Linked DNA regions of Homo sapiens. The protein of the gene in region 2 interacts with the protein of the main gene of each other region in a pairwise test. Each region holds a gene or a part of one and is shown on either strand. Other genes may lie near its edges.

Region 1 (3,500 bases), on a different chromosome or scaffold from region 2:
CACTACTGTGTTCTGCTGCTTATGGTTGGACCCTTCTGCATGTTTTAATTACCCAGCAGAAGGTGATAGGCATGAACTAAGTTGTAATCAAGTGATTTTGTGGCTGCCATTTGTCATTCACTCTCTATAAACTCTGTTACATCACAAAGATATTTGCTTATAGGTACCTTTTAAATTTCATGAGAAGATAATAATTCATTTTACTAAAGATGTTTAAAGAACAGTTAATGCAGCTAATTCTGAATGATAGGTTTTTAGTGTCCAGAGGACAGTAAATCAGTATCAAACTTTTCTTACTCAGACATCACTATTTGAAAGAATTACTTGGATGGGCAAAAATTTTGTAAACATGGTCCTCTATAAGTACAAGCAGAAATTCAATTGTTTACAGGCATGCCCAGATTTTACAATGTTTCCTGACATTTCTCCCAGCCCTTCACAAAATCTTCGCGTTTAATATCTTCAAGAAACCCTATGAAATACTATAATCCACATTTTACAGAAGAAAAAACTAGGGGTCCGAAAAAAAAAATGATTTTTCTAAGATCATAGTAAGTATCACAGTCAGAGGTAAGAATCGCTTCAACCAAGGAGGCAGAGGTTGCAGTGAGCTGAGATCATGCCACTGCATTCCAGCCTGGGTGACAGAGCAAGACTCTGTCTCAAAAAAATAAAAATAAAAATAAAATTAAAAAAAAGTGCCTTTCATCCTTATATTTCCTCATGAGATAATAAGGTCTAGGGAGGGATCATTTCTTTTTTTTTTTTTTTTGAGACAGAATCTCGATCTGTCCCCCAGGCTGGAGTGCAGTGGTGCGATCTTGGCTCACTGCAAGCTCCGCCTCCCACGTTCACGCCATTCTCCTGTCTCAGCCTCCCGAGTGGCTGGGATTACAGGCGCCTGCCACCACGCCCCGCTAATTTTTTGTATTTTTAGTAGAGACGGGGTTTCACCGTGTTAGCCAGGATGGTCTCAATCTCCTGACCTCGTGATCCGCCCGCCTCGGCCTCCCAAAGTGCTGGGATTACCGTCGTGAGCCACCGCACCCAGCCTCTTTTTTTAATGTTTAAGAAAATGCAGTTTTTATCCAAAATGAGTTTGTGTACCAAATATTAATAGTTTAGCTAATCATTGTTATATTCGTTCATTATGTTATTTTTATTTCAATTCTTGCTTTTAAAAAACCCAAAACTTTAAAAATCCTTATGCCTTGTCTATTTTCTTTACCTTTGTTTTGTTTTGTTTTGATGGATAATTTTTTAATAAAGTGAGGTTTACATCACTGATATTTAAGAATGGCTGTATCCACAAAAGAAAACAAACCTTTTTGGCTAAGGGGTGAGGAAGTTAGAAAAAGCATGAGAAACAGGAAACACAAGAGGGGTGAGGCGGGGCAGGAGAGGAAGGTTGCAGGCACCTCCAGCTCACTCCCTGAGGCAGCACCTATGACCCTACAGATCAAGGGGCCATGAATGACAGGGATTCGGATTTCTTTCATTCTAGACTTCAGCCTTAACCTTTTGTTCCAGCACCAATCTAACAGAGCAGCACAGGCATTTCTAATCCAGTAGCAATGCTATTTCCTCAGCCAGGGCAGGTGCCTGGGCTGACGGGAGGCCTTCAGGAACACCGCCTGTCAGAAGGCACCACGGAGGGTCTCTGAGGTCCTGAAGACCAACTGGTGCCCGTGATCTCCAAACAGACAAATATTTGACCTTTGCCTTCAATGACATTTACACATAAATAGACATAAATAAAATTCTCCATAATTTATGCTCAAGTCTAGGAAGATGTGGCTCCCACAGTAGATTTTCTAATGACAAAAAAAATGTAGTAGCTGTGTGCGGTTTTTGAGTTTCACCCAGGTCTCACGGTAGCACAGAACATAATGGAGAAGTATTGCACGCACATTTAAAGTAAAACATGATACACTCACACTGTTGACAAGGACCGTAGTGATGCCCACTGCAAAAAAAATCCCTTATTTAAACCTGAAAAAAATGAAACACACCAACTACAATTGTTCAGGCTATAAAAGTTCTAATGTCGCAGCAAAGGATATTTATAGAAAAAATATACTTTTAAGAAAATAGCTGAAAAAATCTAAAGACATAAGGTATAAAAAGTTTAAAAATATGTATCTTAAGACAAAATATTGCCCAAAACACTTAAAACTGAATTGTAAAAAAATCACCTGTCTGAATGTAAAGGAGGTTGATGCAGCTGTGGTTCGCCGTCCTCTACAGTGGGGGACACAAAGAGAGACGAAGGGCCCAGGGCTGTAAGGACGTCAGGACCGGTCCAGAGAGGAGAAGTCTTCCAGGAGAACAGCCATCTCTGCCTGGCCCTCCACAGCGGGGAAAGTGAGTGGGACGGGCCTGGGGTTGCAGACCCTGCTGATGATGGTCTGTTCTGGGATTTCTCAGAATCAGCAGACAGGGCAGCAAGGCTGGGCAGCGGGCGGCAGGCGCACCCTCTACGGGAGCCAGTGCTCACGTGTCCACGCGTCAGACACAGCTGCGAGCGCTCAGGGCTCTGGTTCAGGTCTCCACCAGGATCTCCACCATGTGGTCCAGCTCGCCCAGATCGGACTTGCAGATGGAGCTGGGGCACGGGGTGACCGGAGCCAAGCCCTCGAGCCCTTCACAGGGGCCCGGCCCGGCACCCCCATCATGCCTGTCAGTACTGTGTCCAGGTTGTAGTAGGGGCTGTCCACGCCTGAAAACAGCTCTTCCATGTAGCGGGGGATTTTAGTCTCCAGCGTTTCATATATATCTGATCGAGTGATTTGCGAAAGCTTCCTCTGTTTTCTTGAGGGCCATCCATCTCCCAGACGCTCCTCCCTCTGCGGGTGCCTCGGCGTCTGTGCTGAGGTGACTGGGCAAAGGTTAGAAACTGAGCCCTGTGCGTGGCCGTCTCCCAAGCCAGAGGCAGGACGTGCCCCCTCCTGCTCCCACGCCGCGCGGCACAGAATCTCCATGAAGACCAAGTGGTCCAGCGGCGCCCACCCTGCAGCCTGGGGTGTGCGCCGTATCCCATCCTGCGTCATCTCCTCTTGGATCTGCCGGACCACGTGGCAATGAGGATTGAGCGGCACAGGTTGGGCTCCACAAGCATGTGGCAAAGCTGCAGCTTCACCAGGGACATGTCCAAGAGGGACTGCCGCTGCAAGCTGTACGAGGACACGGTCTTCAAGCCGGCCAGGGCTCCCTCCACGTCTTCCTGGTGGCCAACACGTTTCCCCTTCAGTCCTCGTGCAAACATTGTGTCTTTGAGAGAACGGTTATCTGGGTCCTGCCGTCTCGTGCATCCCACACGAAGGCCACAGAAGAGGCGAGGCAGCAGAGATCCTCTATTCCAGCAAGCTGTCGAAGCCTTTGTCACGACGATCCTGTCCGACCCGCGAGTCTGCCCGCTGGGTCCTCTGCTCAGCCGACGCCACCGCCGCTGCCGCCTGCTTCCCGCCGCTCAGGGAGGAGCGCCCGCCAGCGCGGGGCCT
Region 2 (3,500 bases):
AATTACGGTACCTCAGGGTCATGAGTCAAACAATCAGACCTGCCAAGACTTGACACCCCAAATGCATCACTTCTGACATCCATTGGGTCCAGGAATCCCCTGCCTCATGAATATCCATCTTAGTGTGCATGCCTCCAAGAATGGGGAGCTCACTACTTTGCGAGGCAGCGCATTCCATCTTAGGAGAGTTCTACTGTTTAAAAGCTCTTCCTCCAACTGCCCCCACTGAGCAATGGGTCCACTTTCATTTCCTTGGGGTTTGTACCATTCTAGTCCTATTGCTTCTCTCTGAGCTAAATATCCACAGCTACTAAATCTGCCCCCCTTGAAAAGTGTTAAATCCTCAATTCCTCCTCTGAGCTCCTCTGGTTTTCCTGGGGACCTAAGGCTCTGCTTCCCCAAAACACCCACTCCAGGGTTGTTTTCTAGAACAAACGTAAGGCATGAAGTATTTCTTTGACTCTTTCATCACAGTGGGTTCTGGAAGATTCTGGAGGCTGGAAACATATGTGCCTCCCCCTCCCCACACACATTCCAAAAAAGTCATCACAGCAGAAAGCACGGTGGAACAAACAGCTCTCGGTTCGAATTCACCGTCACTTACTGGCCAGGAAAGTTATCTGAGCCTCAGTTTCTTCTCCTGTACAATGGGGAGCATCATTCCTATTTTTGAGGACCACTAGGAGGCTTACCTCTGTTTGTGCTGATGTAGTGAAAGGGGATGTCAGGCACACTGCAGGAGCTCAGGTACCAGACGGACTGTCTATGGAGGCAGGAGTGAGGGCCTGGGGCGGTCACAGAGGTTGCATTTGCTTTGCAGTAAGGCCATGGCCGCTTAAGGGTGTCCAGAAAAAAGCCCTGTCCGACATGCACACACTCCTGTGTCCAGGCAATGAGCCTGTGGGCACTGACAGCAAGAGTCCTTCTCACGCTTCTCTTCAGGGCTCAAACTTTAGATTTACTCCGGCCTGTCCCATCCCATTCACTGCCAACCCCTCTGAGCCTCTCTGATCTGTGCCACCGGTGAAGGGCAGTCGTGGGGCACAGAGAAGTGGCCCAGCTGAGTGACATCTGGAAATGAGCAGTGCCTGAGGGGACGCCCGTGGGGTGTTGTGACCTGTACAGTGCCAGGCTCCAGCACAGCCCCGTCGCTTCTGTGGTTCTTATCATGGTCATGAGGTCGCTTCTCCTCTTCCCTGCGGGTTTCCTAAGTGGTCACACTCCAGTGGCAGGGTGGTCTGCCGGAGAAAGACCAAAATTTGTCATACTTTAGAATCACCTGGAGACTGGTCACCCACGCAGGTGCGGGGGTCCTGCTCTGGGGACTGTGATTTGAAGTCTGGGTACTATTCACTGAAATGACAGACTGCGGCAAATCTCAATCAATCAAGGTTCATCGAGTTGATAAACTTCAATTGACATTTATCGAGAGTTTGAGGGTGCACCTGGGAAAAACATGAGCCACAGAAAATGTGTGTGGCCTATGCTCTCCGAAGAGTCATGAGACTTAGTGTTGTAAATCAAAGAGAAACTGACTGAAGCAGGTCTCAATTATTTTTGAAGTTTATTTTGCCAAGATTAAGGATGCACCCAGGAAAGAGGGACACGAAATCACAGGAAACATCTCTGGCCCATGCTTCTTTCAAAGAAGGGTCTTCACTATTCAAAGGGAAAAAAGCAGGCAGTAGGGGAAAGAAGGAAAAATCGGGGGAAGGTGGCCAAAAGAGGCAAGCAGTTGCACCCCTTTGAGCCTTTTCATTAACTTCACTGAATGCACATTTTTCATGTGAAAGAAGCAGGTGGAGGAATCATCAATTCCGCATTCACCTGGTGCTCAGTCAATCTGCATTTTTATATAAGATAAAATAATCATAGGGCTGGGCACGGTAGCTCACAACTGTAATCCCAGCAGCTTGGGAGGCCAAGTTGTGTGGATCACCTGAGGTCAAGAGTTCGAGACCAGCCTGTCCAACATGGTGAAACCCTGTCTCTACTAAAAATACAAAAACTAGCCAGGCACGGTGGTGCATGCCTGTAGTCCTAGCTACTTGGGAAGCTGAGGCAGGAGAATCATTTGAACTCAGGAGGCAGAGGTTGCAGGGAGCTGAGATCACACCACTGCACTCCAGGCTGGGTGACAGAGCAAGACTCTATCTCAAAATAATAATAATAATAATAATCATCATCATCATCATCATAGCATATAGGAAGCTGTCAGCTATGCACTCGTCTCAGGTGAGCAGAGGGATGACTTTGGGTTCTATCCTTTGTTCCATACCTGTGAAGCTAAGCTGTTAATTTATATCATGAGGGTGAAATACAACAGAGCTGCTTGAAGGCAAAGATCCTGGGGCCCACAAGGAATTTCACTGTGAGCAAAATGTGAGGGAAGTAAATAGTTATCCATTTAGACACAAAACGGGAGGCGGGTTGCATGACCCAGCTCCCAGCTAGACTTTTCCCTTTGGCTTAGTGCGTTTGGGGTCTGGGGATTTTAATTTTATTTTTCTTTCACAGTATTTACACATGTCCTTGAAGTGGAGAAAGCATGTAGGAAGAGGAGGTTAGGCAGAAGGAGGCCTGATCTCATCTTGCCTTTGTCTTGCTTTTATGCTGTACCTGGGGAGATCAGCACCATCAGCGTGACTCTAACAGACTTGAGTGTGAGGAGCTAGGCTTGGATTGCAGACCTCAAGTTACAATTGATGTGTCCTTGTTTTGTGGTAAGATCCACATCTTGAAAGGTTTCACCCAGCAAAGAACAATTTGTGGGGGCAGTCATGGGGAGATATCCGAGGCCTTTTCCTTTCTGTGGGGGTCTGGCTAATGTCTAAGGTTGTGGAGTAACAGCTGTCATTAGGAATAAGGATGACAATGTTGGCTGACTCAGTCTCCAGGCTTAACTTTCCCTTTGGCATAAAGAGTTTGGGGGTCCCAAGATTTCTGTTTTCCTTTACAGTACTCAAGGACTTGCTAATATCTCAGGGGATTTCAGCCACACTTTGAAACAAGCTACCTTAGCAAATGGTCTGTCCTGGACCCAAAAGCCACTCTCCTCAGGCCCTTCCTCCTAGTCCCACCAGCCAAAAAACTTGGGGACCCCAAACCTGTTCTTCACTCTCTGGCACCTGTGCTCATGTGCCTGCTGCCTCAGGAAAGGACAGAAACCCTCCCCGATCCAAGTTATTAGCAAACTGCCCATCTCCACAAAAATTTAAATGGACAGATTGTTAAATGCACACAGCTCACAGCCAGCTCCTTTCAAGGTAGATTTGGGCCCAAACATTTCGGGAAGCATCAGGCTGTGCCCCGCCATCCCTACCAAACAGGAATCCTCTCGAGGGAAAAGACTGGGCCTTTCCCTCAGCCCCTAGCACCCACTCATGCTTGGCACCTGCTGTGCTCTAAGAGTGCAGGGGTCACTCCCTGACCACAGAGGGAGGCTCTCTGGGGTTCTCCCGGAGCCTCGGAGATTGCACCTTGTGCATGCGCTGCTGCAC

The links. The genes of interacting proteins can lie anywhere in the genome.
Region 1: the proteins of BDKRB2 (region 2) and CLCA4 interact in a two-hybrid assay, tested with the Homo sapiens proteins (one large-scale study listed by BioGRID and IntAct).

What each region holds. Positions count from the first base shown.
Region 1 is NC_000001.11:86,550,078-86,553,577, forward strand, and holds part of CLCA4 (calcium-activated chloride channel regulator 4 precursor), read left to right. Parts: intron 1-3,500. UniProt on the Homo sapiens protein: May be involved in mediating calcium-activated chloride conductance.
Region 2 is NC_000014.9:96,207,839-96,211,338, forward strand, and holds part of BDKRB2 (B2 bradykinin receptor), read left to right. Parts: intron 1-3,500. UniProt on the Homo sapiens protein: Receptor for bradykinin. It is associated with G proteins that activate a phosphatidylinositol-calcium second messenger system.